Regions from separate parts of the Homo sapiens genome. Here regions 2 and 3 are each linked to region 1. The links come from fine-mapping of genetic effects on gene expression. A gene starts in region 1. Each other region holds a variant in brackets. All regions are shown on one strand. Distances are from middle to middle.

What was found. PIP is the estimated chance that this variant, and not a neighbour inherited with it, causes the effect. A credible set is the group of variants that fine-mapping cannot tell apart.
Region 2: its variant is the best candidate, but not a certain one, in a credible set for the expression of NACC2 in whole blood (INTERVAL, PIP 0.52).
Region 3: its variant is the best candidate, but not a certain one, in a credible set for the expression of NACC2 in whole blood (TOPMed, PIP 0.72).

Annotation. Positions count from the first base shown.
Region 1 is chr9:136,093,559-136,097,685 of GRCh38, reverse strand. NACC2 (NACC family member 2) reads left to right here and starts at 2,397. Exons shown (of 6, transcript NM_144653.5): 1 at 2,397-2,497. RefSeq lists silencers at 1,935-2,034, 2,355-2,484 and an enhancer at 3,690-4,127.
Region 2 is chr9:135,984,953-135,989,079 of GRCh38, reverse strand. No RefSeq gene overlaps it. Among named protein-coding and RNA genes, the nearest start is that of UBAC1, 26 kb to the right of the region's middle. The variant C/T (reference allele first, on the strand shown) is at 2,158.
Region 3 is chr9:136,045,247-136,049,373 of GRCh38, reverse strand. All of the region lies in intron 2 of NACC2 (NACC family member 2), which reads left to right. Among named protein-coding and RNA genes, the nearest start is that of NACC2, 48 kb to the left of the region's middle. The variant G/C (reference allele first, on the strand shown) is at 2,239.

The DNA of each region.
Region 1 (4,127 bases):
CGGTGCTGCTATGCTCAGTTGAGACTGTGGCCCCCAGGCCCTTGTAGCAGCCAGGAATCAACAAGATCAAATGCAGGGAGGAGATGCGGAGGATGCACCCGGGGTGAGCCCCACTCAGCCCAGGCCCTGCTGGGGACCCCTGAGTGAGCCCCAGGCTAAGCTGTAAAACGGGAATAAGGCTGGGCGCAGTGGCTCACACCTGTGATCCCAGCACTTCGGGAGGTTGAGGCAGGTGGATCACCTGAGGTCAGGAGTTCAAGACCAGCCTGCCTAACATGGTGAAACCCCGTCTCTACTAAAAATACAAAAATTAGCTGGGCGTGGTGGCACGTGCCGATAATGCCAGCTACTCGGGAGGCTGAGGCAGGAGAATCGCTTGAACCCGGGAGGCAGAGGTTACAGTGAGCTGAGATCGCGCCACTGCACCCCAGCCTGGGCAACAGTGTGAGACTCGGACTCAAAAAAAAAAAAAAAAAAAGGAATAAACAGAGCTCACCTCATGGTACTGTTGTGAACGTTAAATGCGGTAAGGTGTACATACTCAGTAGCACGGGCCTGGAATTCAGTAGGGATGCAGGGTTTGCTTTAAAAGGTGCAAATATATGTTGGTGTACATACGTATAGGCACACAGAAATTGGGGAATTGATTTCTGCTTATCCGCTATCTTCTAAACACTTTTCAATGCTTTCCAAATATCCTTCACTAAGGAAGAATGTCTTTAATATTTAGAAAATAAAAGTGATTAAAACAATCATTCCCATCCCTGGAGGGCCACGGGTCCTAGTGGGTAGCCCCTTGAGGCCTGCCCCAGGGCTGGAAGCAGCTCCAGGCATCTGTCTCTGGGATTCACGATTCTCAGGGGCTTGGGGTAGCTATGCTCACTGAGAGATCCTGCAGAGATTGTAAAGTCAGGCCTAGGAAGCACCAGAACCCTGAGGCTGCTGAGCTCATGCCCTGGGTGTAGGAGGCACTCAGAACCCTCCTACCCCACCTCCTTCCCACAGTAGACTGCGGGGCGGGTTTGGAAGTGGCAGTGGTGGGGGGAGGGGGGTTGGGGTGTGGGACCTGGGACTGCATTTAGGTCTAGATGGGACTCTGTGGGGAGAGCCCAGAGTCCCTGCGGGGTTCCATACTCACCCCCATACAAGGCAAGCCAGGGAGTGAAGTGTGTGTGTGTGTGTGTGTGTGTGTTCTGGACGCAGAGCTGAATAGAACCTAAAGTTGGGGTCAAGGGCCAGTCTGTGGCCAAGATCAAGGGCCTAGCTTGAGGTTGGGGTGACAAGAACCTGGCCAAGCTTCTGATGATTTGTCCAGGGAATGACCTTGGCTGACTGTGCCAGAAGGGCTGTAGCCCCAGGTTTCTGATCCCCAGAGCCCCAAAGGCGTTCTCTGGGATGCTGGTGGCCATCTCCTTCTCAACCCTTCTCCCAGCGCCCTCGCTCGGGACCACTGAGGCGGTATCACTCCATTCTCCTGCAAGGACCCTTGAGCGTGCTGTGGGAGTGAGGCTGGCTTAGCCTCTGAGGACCACTGCAGCCTGTCCTGACCTCAGGCCCCAGGTTAGGGGGCAGCTGAGGAGGGGTCTCTGGGTCTTTCCGGGTGTGTGGCCGTTTTATTTCCGTGCCCTTGTTTTAAAACTGCACCTCTGTCCTCAGGAGCGTGGCCTTGGGCAGATGGAGAGCTGCGTGGCCGGTGCCGGAATGACTGTCAACGCCCCAGTGCGCCCGGATCACACCAGGCCTGAAGGCAGCGCCAGGCCCAGTCCAGGCAGCTTGCAGTTCCCGGGCCGCAGGGACGGGCGCCGGAGCCCCGCAGACGTTCGCCCAAGGGCGCTCCCGTATCCTCGTCTTTCACGGCCCGCCTGAGCGTCCAGGGCGGCTGCGGATGCGCGCACTTCCCCCGCCCGGATCCCGGAGGCTGCACCGTGCGGACGCGACTGCCGCGGGCAGGGCGCGCGCCGGGGGCGGGGTAGGGGGGCCCGGGGGCTCTCCCGGGCTTAGCGAGTCCGGCCGAGGCCGGGGCCCGGGGAGGGCGGAGGGCGGCGCTCCAGGTCCTTTCCCGACCCGGCCGCCGAGCTCCGTCCTCTGCGCCGCGGCGTCCGGCTCCCGCCGGGTGTCCCGCGCAGGGTCGACCGCCGGCAGCTCCGGAAGGAGGACGCGCGAGGGGCGAGGAGCTGCCGCCTCCCCTCCCCAGCGCTCGGGGTTCCCCACGCCCCGCCGGCCCCCACTGGGGACCCTCCCGGCCCCCGGACCCCAGCCCCGACCCCGGGAGCCCACCTGGCTGCCAGTGCGCGCGCGCGCGCGGCCGGCGCGCTGTCCCTTTAACGGCCCGCGGGCACCTCCCCCGCCGCCGCCCCGCCCCCGCCGCGGTGCGGCCGCCGGTGCTGGGCGAGGTCGGAGAAAGTCCATGGGAGCCGGAGCGCCGGGACGCCAAGCACTTCCTGCCGCGGGCGGCGCGCCGCAGCTGCCCAGGCCGGACCGGGCCGGGCGCCCGCAGGTACCGCCAACTTGGCGCGCGCGGCCGCCCCCGGGTTACGCCGCCGGGCGGGGTCGTCCCACGGGCCGGGCCCGCACTTCCCGCAAACTCCGCGGCCGCCCAACTTGGCGCGAGCCCCCTGCCGCAGTGCCGGCCGCGCGGGGCGGGTGCGGCCGAGTTCCGCGCCGGCCCGGGCGTGCGCGCGGGAACCGGCCTCGGGAGCCCGCGGAGGGGGGCCGGGCGGGGCCGGGGGGTCCCGGCGGAGGCGCCCGCGACCCCGGGCCGGGACGCCGCGCCGCGCGTTCGGGGAGACCCCGGCTCCGGGCGTCCCGGGGCGCTCCCCGCCGCCTGCTGGGTTTCCCTGGATTTCTGGGGACCCGCGCGGCCTCCCCAGGGACCCGACTGGCCGATCCAGCCCTCCGGGTGGGGAAGCCGGGGCAGGACTGGCCCGGGGCCAGGGCGGAGGTACCCACCCCTCCCGGCGCATCTGCGCAGCTGCCTGGCCCAGCCGGGCCCGCGCCTCGCCCTCCCGGTCCAGGTGGGCCCGTTCGTGGGTCGTCACCGCCTCCCGCGCCTCCCCCACTCGGGCCCCAGCCTGGGGAGAAACTGGGGTCCGGCCGCAGGGGGAGGGGGCTCTGCCTCTTGCCAGCTTCTGTGCCTCTGCGGAGCTGAGGTCGGGGGGCCCCAGCTCCTTCTCTAAGAAACTCAGCGGAGCCCGGGGCCCGCCGCGCACCCCGCACGGCCAGGGCGGACCGAGGCCTTCCGACGGAGTTTCCTGCTTCTCTTGCTGGGATCGTGTGGGGTCGGAGGTCAGAGGTCACCTCCCAGCCCCTCTGCCAGGCTCTGGGGGAAGTTTGGTCTTGGACTCTCGTCGTGGAGCCGCTTAAACCTGTGGGTCTGAAGGCCGCGAGGCCGGGTCCCTGGAGTTGGCCTCCCAGGCCGTTCCACTCCCTCCCCCAACCCCCGCGCGGGGCCTCCGGATTGGAGGTGTTTCACCCACGTGCTGGTGGGCCCGTCTCCCTGGGCCGCTGGGTGCCCTGAGCTGTGTTCTCTGCTGCGCGTTCCTTCCTGTGTGTGGCGGGGGTGCTGACCCGGGGGTGCCCAAGGCAGCCCGGACTCCCATCCCGTGGAGCTGCCTCCGGGAGCGCGTGCACCTTGGTGTTCCCGCCCGCCAGCGCGGCCGCACTCTCCTGCCAGAGTCCGTGTCCCTCCAGGTCGCCCCTTCTTCTCACCCACCCCTCTTTTCGTCTGGCAGGCTCCTGACCTCCTTCCCTCCTGTTCTCCAGTGGGACACTCAGCTCAGCATTCTGCAGGGTGTTTTAGCCTGTAGCACCCCCCAGCAGGGGCGCCTAGAGTTAGGTCAGGGTTCAGGCAGCCCCCGCCCCACCCGCCACCTCTCAGCCACCCACCCCTTCTTCTCCCGGCCACCGTTGGAGCACCCCTCTGGTCCTCTGTGGGGCCTTTCCCAGCCCCTCCCTTAAAGAGGCCTCTTGGCGTTTTCCCCTGGGGTCACTGTTGGGTGGTAGCTGGGCCAGAGTCCAAGGGGAGGAAATAAAAGGAGCTGCCACCCAAGGTGGTGGCCCCCTGTCCTTTCGGCAAAGCCACTTGGAATGGGCACAGAGAGTGGAACAAGATATCACTTGTCACTTCT
Region 2 (4,127 bases), 110 kb after region 1:
CCCCTGGGATAGCACTCCAGGCTCAGCCTTCAGGACTGGGTTGCACAATTTAAAATTAATAATCGCGCTGTCTCGTGGCCTCATAATTAAGTGTCTGTTCATCCCCATTATTGTCAGAGAGTGATTTGTTGTTCTCTGGGCACTGAAAATCAACCTGCTGAAGGGAGGGGCCTGCGAGCCTTCGGGACAGAGCTGCCCGGGGAACACGGTGCACCCACCTCCCCCAGGGGCCCAGAGGAAGGGGCCCAGCTCCACGCCTCAGGCTGGGGACCCTCGGCCTCCGCTTACTTACCAAACACTCTGGGGGCTTGGAGGTGGCTCTGGGACTCTCCCATTGCCTTGGGGGCTGCCAGGCAGAGTGCGAGGAGGGGCAGCTGCTTGGTCCGATCCCGGGGCTTGTTTTCCAGCAAGCCTGGCCCGGCTGCCTCAGGCTGAGACTGTGAGCAGATGCGGAATGCTCCCGGGTGCTGTGTTCACTCTTGTACCCCAACGCGCCTGTGCACACAGACACACACACGTGCACATATGCACACACGGGAACATATTAAGACTAAAGGCGTCTCCAGGCGTCTCCTCTTAGGAGTCCCACTTGCGGCTCAGCTTCTCTATCAGGAGGGGATGATGATCCCATGCCTTCCCCTACTTCTTACGCATGAGGTTCTGCTGAACGATGGTAGAGCCAGCAGCCTGCCAGTCTGTCTCCAGGAGCCCCCAGCCCAAGCGGGCCCCATCAGGCGGGGCACTATGAGGGTGGGGCCACCTCGCTGGTCCCTGCATCACCTCTTGACTGTCTGGGCCCTACCTGCTTCCAGCGAGCAGTGCCCTGGAGTCGCCTCCTGTGACACCTGGCTTGTGAGTCGGGTCCCCGGGGAGCAGCCCCTGAGGCTCTGAGGGACTCTGGGAATCCCAAAGCTGGCCACACACTCCCAACCCAGGGAGACTCCCCACCCAGGGAGGGGCGTGCTCATCATTTGAGAAAAATCCAGCAGATGCTCAGGTCCTGGAGGATGTGCAACCCCAGCCCTCCTGCACCAACGCCCCGCGCTCCGCCCGGCCCCAGAGGCCAGAGGATGGGCGGGGGCCAAGGACGGGGGCTGCTCATGGCAGAGATCACCTAGGGGTCCTGCCTCAGGATCCTGTGGGCTCCCAGGGGGACCCATACTGGAGGAGGGGATCCACTCTGGCTTGTGGTCCCCAACAGCAGAAAGAGGGGCACCCCCTTCTGCAACGCCACACAGTTTCCCTTGGGACCAAGGATCCTCTGACAACTGGCCTGTGACCACACGGGCCCGAGCTCACGGGGGCCAGTGTCAGAACCCGGCGTGGAGTCTGGAAAACCCTTACATCCCAGAGTGACCCAAGGTCATCCTGCAACCACGCTTGCCACCTGCAGACATAAGACTGGGCAGGGATAGGACTGTTTAATTTTCCTTTGGGCATATTTATTTATTTATTTATTTATTTGTTTATTTATTTTATTATTATTATTTTTTGAGATGGAGTCTCTCTCTGTTGCTCACGCTGGAGTGCAGTGGTGCAATATCAGCTCACTGCAACCTCTACCTCCCAGGTTCAAGTGATTCTCCTGCCTCAGCTTCCCGAGTAGCTGGGATTACAGGTGCATGCCACCATACCCAGCTAATTTTTGTATTTTTAGTAGAGATGGGGTTTTGTCATGTTAGCCGGGCTGGTCCTGAACTCCTGACCTCAGGTGATCCACCTACCTCGGCCTCTCAAAGTGCTGGGATTACAGGCATGAGCCACCGCACCCAGCCCCTTTGGGCATTTTTAAAATCGGGGCTAAAGCAGATAAAGGAGATTTTTTTTCTAAGGAGGAGAAAATGCAAAGTCATGAGCTAACAAAAGAATTTGGTCAAACGTGACCTTCTAATAAGAATTGACGTTAAAATTATGGTTTTAGCCATATTTCCTTTCAGGAGCAGTTAAAGACGCTTTTTGAAGGTGAGAAAATTAATTTTTGAGTTTATATTACACACTGTAACACAGAGGGCTGTGCACACGGTGATGACATTAACCGTCACGTACTTGGCAGAGGCAGTGTGGACTCTGGCCGGATGGGATCCCGGCTTGCTGGGCCTGGACAGAGGGGCTGCACCCCCATGTCTCCAGCCAGGGGAGGGGCAGGGGCCCAGGCCC[C/T]CCGGGAATGGCAGTGGAGGGCTGGACCACCAGAGGCCCCGACCAGCTTGTCCGAAAGGGTGGGCTGCTCGGAGCCTCCTGTGAGTACCAGGCCGAACGTGCAGGCGAAATTCCAGTCACGTGTGGGGCTTGGTGCAGGCTGGGGTCAGGGGTCAGGGGTCAGAGATGCAGCCGGGGCCTCCATCAAGCCTGGGTTGGTGACCAGGGAGCTCCGGGAAGTCCCTGGCTGCCTGGGAGCCGGTGCTGAGGACCCGGCACGGCACCCCTGCACTGCTCCAGGCCTGTCAGAGCCAAGGGCCTGTGTGTGCACCAACCGCCCACCGCGTGCCCCCCAGGCTGGCCCTGGGTGCTTCCTCCCAGGAACCCCCCGAGGCGGGCGCCATGGACACCCTCATTTTCTGTGGAAGGAAGCAAAGGTTCAGGGTGGGGTGTTTTGCTCAAGCTCACGCTGGGCAGGGCCAGCATTCCTGCCCTGCCCATCTCACCCTGAAGCCAGATCTCCTTCCCCTCCCTGGGCCTCAACCTCCCCACCTGGGAGTGGGGCAGGCCAGGTCCTCTAGGCCCCCTCCAGTCTCGCCTGCTGCTGGCACTGGCTGTGGCAGGGGACTAAGCTGAGGGGGCCCCAGGGCAGACAGGGAGGCTGCAGGGGCCCGGCCACAGCCCTTGGCGCCCCTCACCCTCCAGCACCGCCCCTGCAGGCCCTGCACTTGGCTCCGTTCTCAAACACCCCTTGGCACGAGTGAACGGCTCTCGGTCCACTTCAGAAGAAGCATCCTGCCGGCCACGCGGACACGAGAGCCTGAAGCACCGATGGCATTTCAGACCTGATGCCTGCGCAGGGACACAGGGACATTCGGGACGTGTCCAGCTCCACACCAGGCCCGGGAACGCAGGATGAGGAGGACAGCCTGGGCTGGAGGTGCAGGTTGGGGAACAGGCCGCTGCTGTTGGCCCCCACAGGCTTTCAGACCCGTTCTCTGGACCTAGGAGAGGGGGAGGCCGAGTGCCCAGGCCAGCTGGGGGCAGCACGTGGAGGTTGTGAGCATGGGTTGGCTCTGGAGTCATGGCAGAGGGCTGCGCAGGTGCCAGCATTCAGGAGGAGCAGGAGGAAGGGGCCTACCCCAGGGAAAGAGAGATGGGGGTAAGCGCAGCCCTCAGCGCGTCCTTTCTGATTGCCTCCGCTGCCTCGTGTTCACCCGAGTCCCAACCAACACGTGAGCAGAGCGCTTCACAGGGGTCAAGAAGCTTGAAGCTTGGAGACTGACCCACCCGTGTTCAGCAGCTGGGGGAGGAGACAGCGTCAGCAAGGCCGCATGCCCAGGACACAATGGCGGGTATGGGAGCCCTGGCCAGAAGGGCCAGGCCAGGGCCCAGTGGCGGGTGGCGGCTTATGGCCTTCCTTCTGGTAGAAGGGGGAAAAAGGCAGGGAGAGGAGGCCGACACCACCTCCAGGAAGCTCTCCCCGCCTGATTCCCAGGCTCTCCCAGATAAGGCGGGACACTAGGAGGTGAATTTTAGGAGACTTTCCAACAAAAAATAGCCTAATAGGCTTTAGCATTTATTTATTTATTTATTTATTTATTTATTTATTTATTTATTTATTTATTATTGAGACAAGGAGTCTCACTCTGTCACCCAGGCTGGAGTGCAGTGGCACAGTCTTGGCTCACTACAACTTCTGCCTCCCAGGTTCAAGCGATTCTCCTGCCTCAGCCTCCTGAGTAGCTGGGATTACAGGCACATGCCACTAGGCTCGACTAATTTTTGTATTTTTAGTAGAAAGGGGGTTTCAACATGCTGGTCAGGCTGGTCTCGAACTCCTTACATCATGTGATCTGCCCGCCTCAGCCTCCCAAAGTGCTGGGATTACAGCCTTGAGCCCCGCGCCCGGCTGGCTTTAGCATTTAAAGGTTTAAAGTTTCAGGAAATGCACTAATCCGTCACTCCGCCTCTCTCCAACCCATGGATGC
Region 3 (4,127 bases), 48 kb after region 1:
TGGCCCAGGGACCTGCCCCAGGGTTCACGTTCCCCGTCTGTGAAGGGCCTGGCGCCACGCGGTGTACGGGAGGACCCGCCTACTTCCCCTTTAACCTCAGTCTGCGCCTCACCCGGCCAGGTCTAGAGAGTCCCCTGAACCCAGCCCCTTTGCCACCACCTCTCCAGGCCCCGCGCCAGGGATGGGCCAGGAAGCGCCCAGTGTGCTGAGCCGAGTGAGCAGTCGCTCCCCCTCCTCTCCGTTCCTTTCTTTCAAGGAGGGCTGCTCCCCGTCCTGGGCCCCACAAACCCAGGTTGCCCTAATTGGAGATTCCTGGTTACAGCCTCTGGAGACTGTTCAGGCTTTGCTGGGCAGAGTCCCACAGTTGGTGCCCAGGATCGGGTGTCCCTGCAACCTGACTGTGTGTCTGGGCTGGCCACCTGGCTGGTCTGCATGCAGGGCCTGTGTGCAGCGGCCTGGGCCTGGGTGCGGGTGCATAATGCCAGCCACGGGCAGGTGGTGGACCCCGAGGGGCAGTGTAGGGACTCTCTCCACCCCACCACGCATATCCCTGTGCCCTGATGGGACGCCCCCCTGCCCTTCCCCTCCTGCAGTGCTGGTTGGGGGCAGAGGGGGCCAGGACCACCCACCAGCTTGGACCCCTAGGCCAGCTGGGTCCCTGTGCAGCGTCTGTCACCACAGCCGGGACAGCAGGGTAACCACTGCTTTGGCCAACCTGGCTCCCTCTCCGCCTGCAGGAGAAGCCACTGCCTTGCCAGCAGGTGCTCTGGGCTCCGTGGTGTCTTCCTGAGAACTCCGCACTTGGTTTAAATGTATATTGCTGTGTTTGCATGAATCCCACAGAATGCCAGCTCACAGGCCACCTCGATCTGGGCTTCACAGCTTTTGTTTTCTTTTAGTGGTAGGGGGTAGGGCTTGATTTGTCCTGAGACTGGGAGCTTTGCTAGCTACGGAATTGGCCCTTCCTGAGGGCAGAGCACACCGGGCTCCGGCTCACCACAGAGGCCGTACAGGATGTCAGTGCTTGTGGACCCGGCTGGCTGAGGCCTCCGGGGAATCCGCCCCATGTGCGCTTTCCCTCTGCCCCTGCTGACAGCCACCCCAGGGAAGGCAGGGGACCAGCCAGAGGCTGCTGGGGAAGGCTCCCAAGGCCCACCCAGGGCCCCTGTTGGGAAGGAGCTCTGTCCATGGGCTCCAGTCCCAGGGCAGAACCCCAGACAGGCTGGGCACCCCTACAGTCCCTGAGGACATCCCCCATTGATGGCAGCCAGACAGTGCCCTGCCGACAATGGCAGCCAGACAGGGCCCTGCCGACGGGTTGCCGACGGGTCAGGGAGCTGCACCATGGAGATGGAAACAGACCCATCGTATCCAAACATCTTCCCAGGGTCCTCCCTGCACAGCCCCCTGCTGCTCCAATGTGACCTTGGGCCTTGGTGTGTTTGGGGTGATGGGAGCCAGGGCTGGGTGTCGGGTTTGCTGGGAGCACGGTGAAGCCTCGTGACTTGTCCCATGCATCTGCCCCTGGGTGCTGGGTCAGCCTTAAGCCCTCACATCGCCTGGACTTCGTGAGCTAGAAGCCCTCACGCCCACCTGCCTTGATGGGTTTTTGGGGAGTCAGCAGGACCGCAGCCAGGAAGCGGCTCTGTGGAGTCCCGGATGTGTGTTGGGTGGGGACGGGAGGCAGCTGCTCTGGTGAGTCCTTCCCTCCAACTCCCCCGTACTCAGACCACACGAGGTACAGTCCCATTGGGGCTGAGGGGTGGGGACACCCTCAAGGCCATGTTCCTGCAGGGCTTTGTCCAGGCCGCAGGTGCTGCGCGGCATTCTCTGCCTTTGCACGGGTGTCGCTGATGCCAGCGAGGTGGAAAGTGGGCGGCTGGGAGGCCAGGCCTGCTCCCGCCCACCTACCATACAGTTTGGCTCTGGATGCCACAGTCTGGGTTTCTTGTCATGGTTTTTCTGTTCGGCAAGCCCATAAGTGGGGCAGAGAAAGGGGGTGTGTGATTTCTTGGTTAAAATCTAGGTTACTGGCTGTGACGTTGCTGGCGTCGCTGGGTGTGCTGGGTTGGCGGTGCCATGGGGGGAGCAGGTAGAGGGAGGGGCCGTCGCCTGACCTGGAGCTGCCCCTGGGTGCTAGCTCCCCGTGCCCTCCGTGTCCCGGGCTCGTCCGGGGAACGTCCTCACACCCACGCAGGAGGCTGGCTGCTGCCCTCGCCAGGCCGTGCAGGAGTGGAG[G/C]CAGGTAGCTGTCTCTCTGGGCTGGTAGGACTAGCGTGTTCTAAGGTCCCTGCAGGCTGAGCTCCTCCTCCTCCCTGGCCTCAGTCTCCCTACCTGTTGAGTGAGAGGCGGGCCTGAGCGATTGCCGAGGGTCCCGGAGCTGCACCTTGGTGTGTGGTAATGCGTGTGCCTGTTCCACCCTCTCTCGCGTTAAGAACCATGGACAGTTTGTCCTGTAGGGCTGTTCTCCTGTTTTTGAAATAAGTCAAAATATTACAGATAAAGTTAATTGCCTTTTGTCCCCGGCACAGCCCCCGCCCCATGGTCTGTGTGGCCTCACGGCAAGGGTCTCCATGCGGTGTCTGTCTCGTGCCTCTCCTCCCTCCCTCCAGGTCCCGCGTCACCACCCGTCAGAAGGAGCCGCCACGTTTGATTTCTCCAGTGCCTTATCAAAGGACATTCAGGTTGTTTTCAGTTTGTTGCAGTCAGGAGCAAAGCTGCGAGAAGGCGCCATGCATGGGTGTGTGAGGTTGATGGGGCCGAGTTCAAGCCCCCCCACCCGCAGCGAGGCAGGCCCCGTCTCGGTCCCCATCAGGTGGACGCTGGCTCGGGACGCTCAGTGCTTCCCACCCACCAGCCCTCATCTCTGCAGCAGTCACTTCAGGGCGCCCTCCTGGGCCTTAAGCCATCACCCCTGCGGCAGGCAGGGACCTTCCTCCTGGCCCTGTGGCCGGCAGCCTCGGGAGACCCCGGAGCAAGATGAGCTGGGGGTGGGGTGCACCCAGGGGTGAAAGAAAAACATCGTATCCACCGGAAGGGAAACGCCCAGTGCAGTTCCCCTCTGGCTGATGGGGAAACCTCCCAGAGGGTGAGGCGCAGGCGTCCCTGCCTGGCGTTGTCAGGGGCCTTGCATCTGAGCTAGAGATTGCGAAATGCCTGCCTCCGCCTCCCCTGCACCCCCATCCCTTCCCGCCCCACCACGGGGGTGAGTCAGGGGCCAGCCCCTCCAGAGAGCAGGAGGTGGGCCGGGCAGAGGGAGCCTGTGCCTTGGGACTTGGTGGTGCTGTGGCCTGAGCGGGAGCCCCTTTCCTCTTCGGGCCCTCTTCCTCGCGTACCCGCCTTCATTCCCCCAGGGTGCGGCTGCATTCCCGCTGGGGCTCAGGGCTCGGGGGCATCTGAACGTCCAGCAGGGACACCGGGAGCCGGGGCTTCCCCGGCAAGGCAGCCGGCCGGGTGGGCAGCGCCAGCTGGGGCTGGGCTTGGGGTGGGGGCTCCCCAGCTGCGCTCAGGGGTCTGTTCCCGTGGTCTCCTTGGCACATCTGGATCCACAGGTCCCTGCAACAGCCGAGACGGTCATGGCAGCTGCTTTTACCCCAGGGCAGATGACAGCACGGGGCCCTGACGGTTATTTCATTGAGTGGGGGTGGCCGTTGTCACCCAAGCTGAGGACGGGCACCTGTGGCATGGCAGACCGCTGAGGTCGAGGGACAGGGAAATGGAGCTCGCAGAGGGAAGGGGTAGTGCCATGCTGGGGCTTCTCTCCTGTCCTCTGAAGGGGAGGGGGCTGCCCGGACCTGCGCCCACACCCCCTCCTGTGCCTGATGGGGCTCGCCCGGCCATCCCTTTCATGCCCTCAGCAGTGGCTTCGGGCGGGCAGATGTTTAATTGCAGCTGGCAGATGTCACTCTGTGTGGCTGGCAGAGACAAAGCCACGCCTGGGTATTGACACCAGCTGCACACTTCCACGGTAACCCTTTCCCAGCAGGGGACAGCTCTGGCCACAGGGCCCGTGGGCCCGTGACGGTAACCCTTTCCTGGCAGGGGACAGCTCTGGCCACAGGGCCTGTGGGCCCGTGAGTGGGTGGCCCTGTGCATGTCCGCTTCCCCTTCCCTTCTGGCTCCCTCCACCC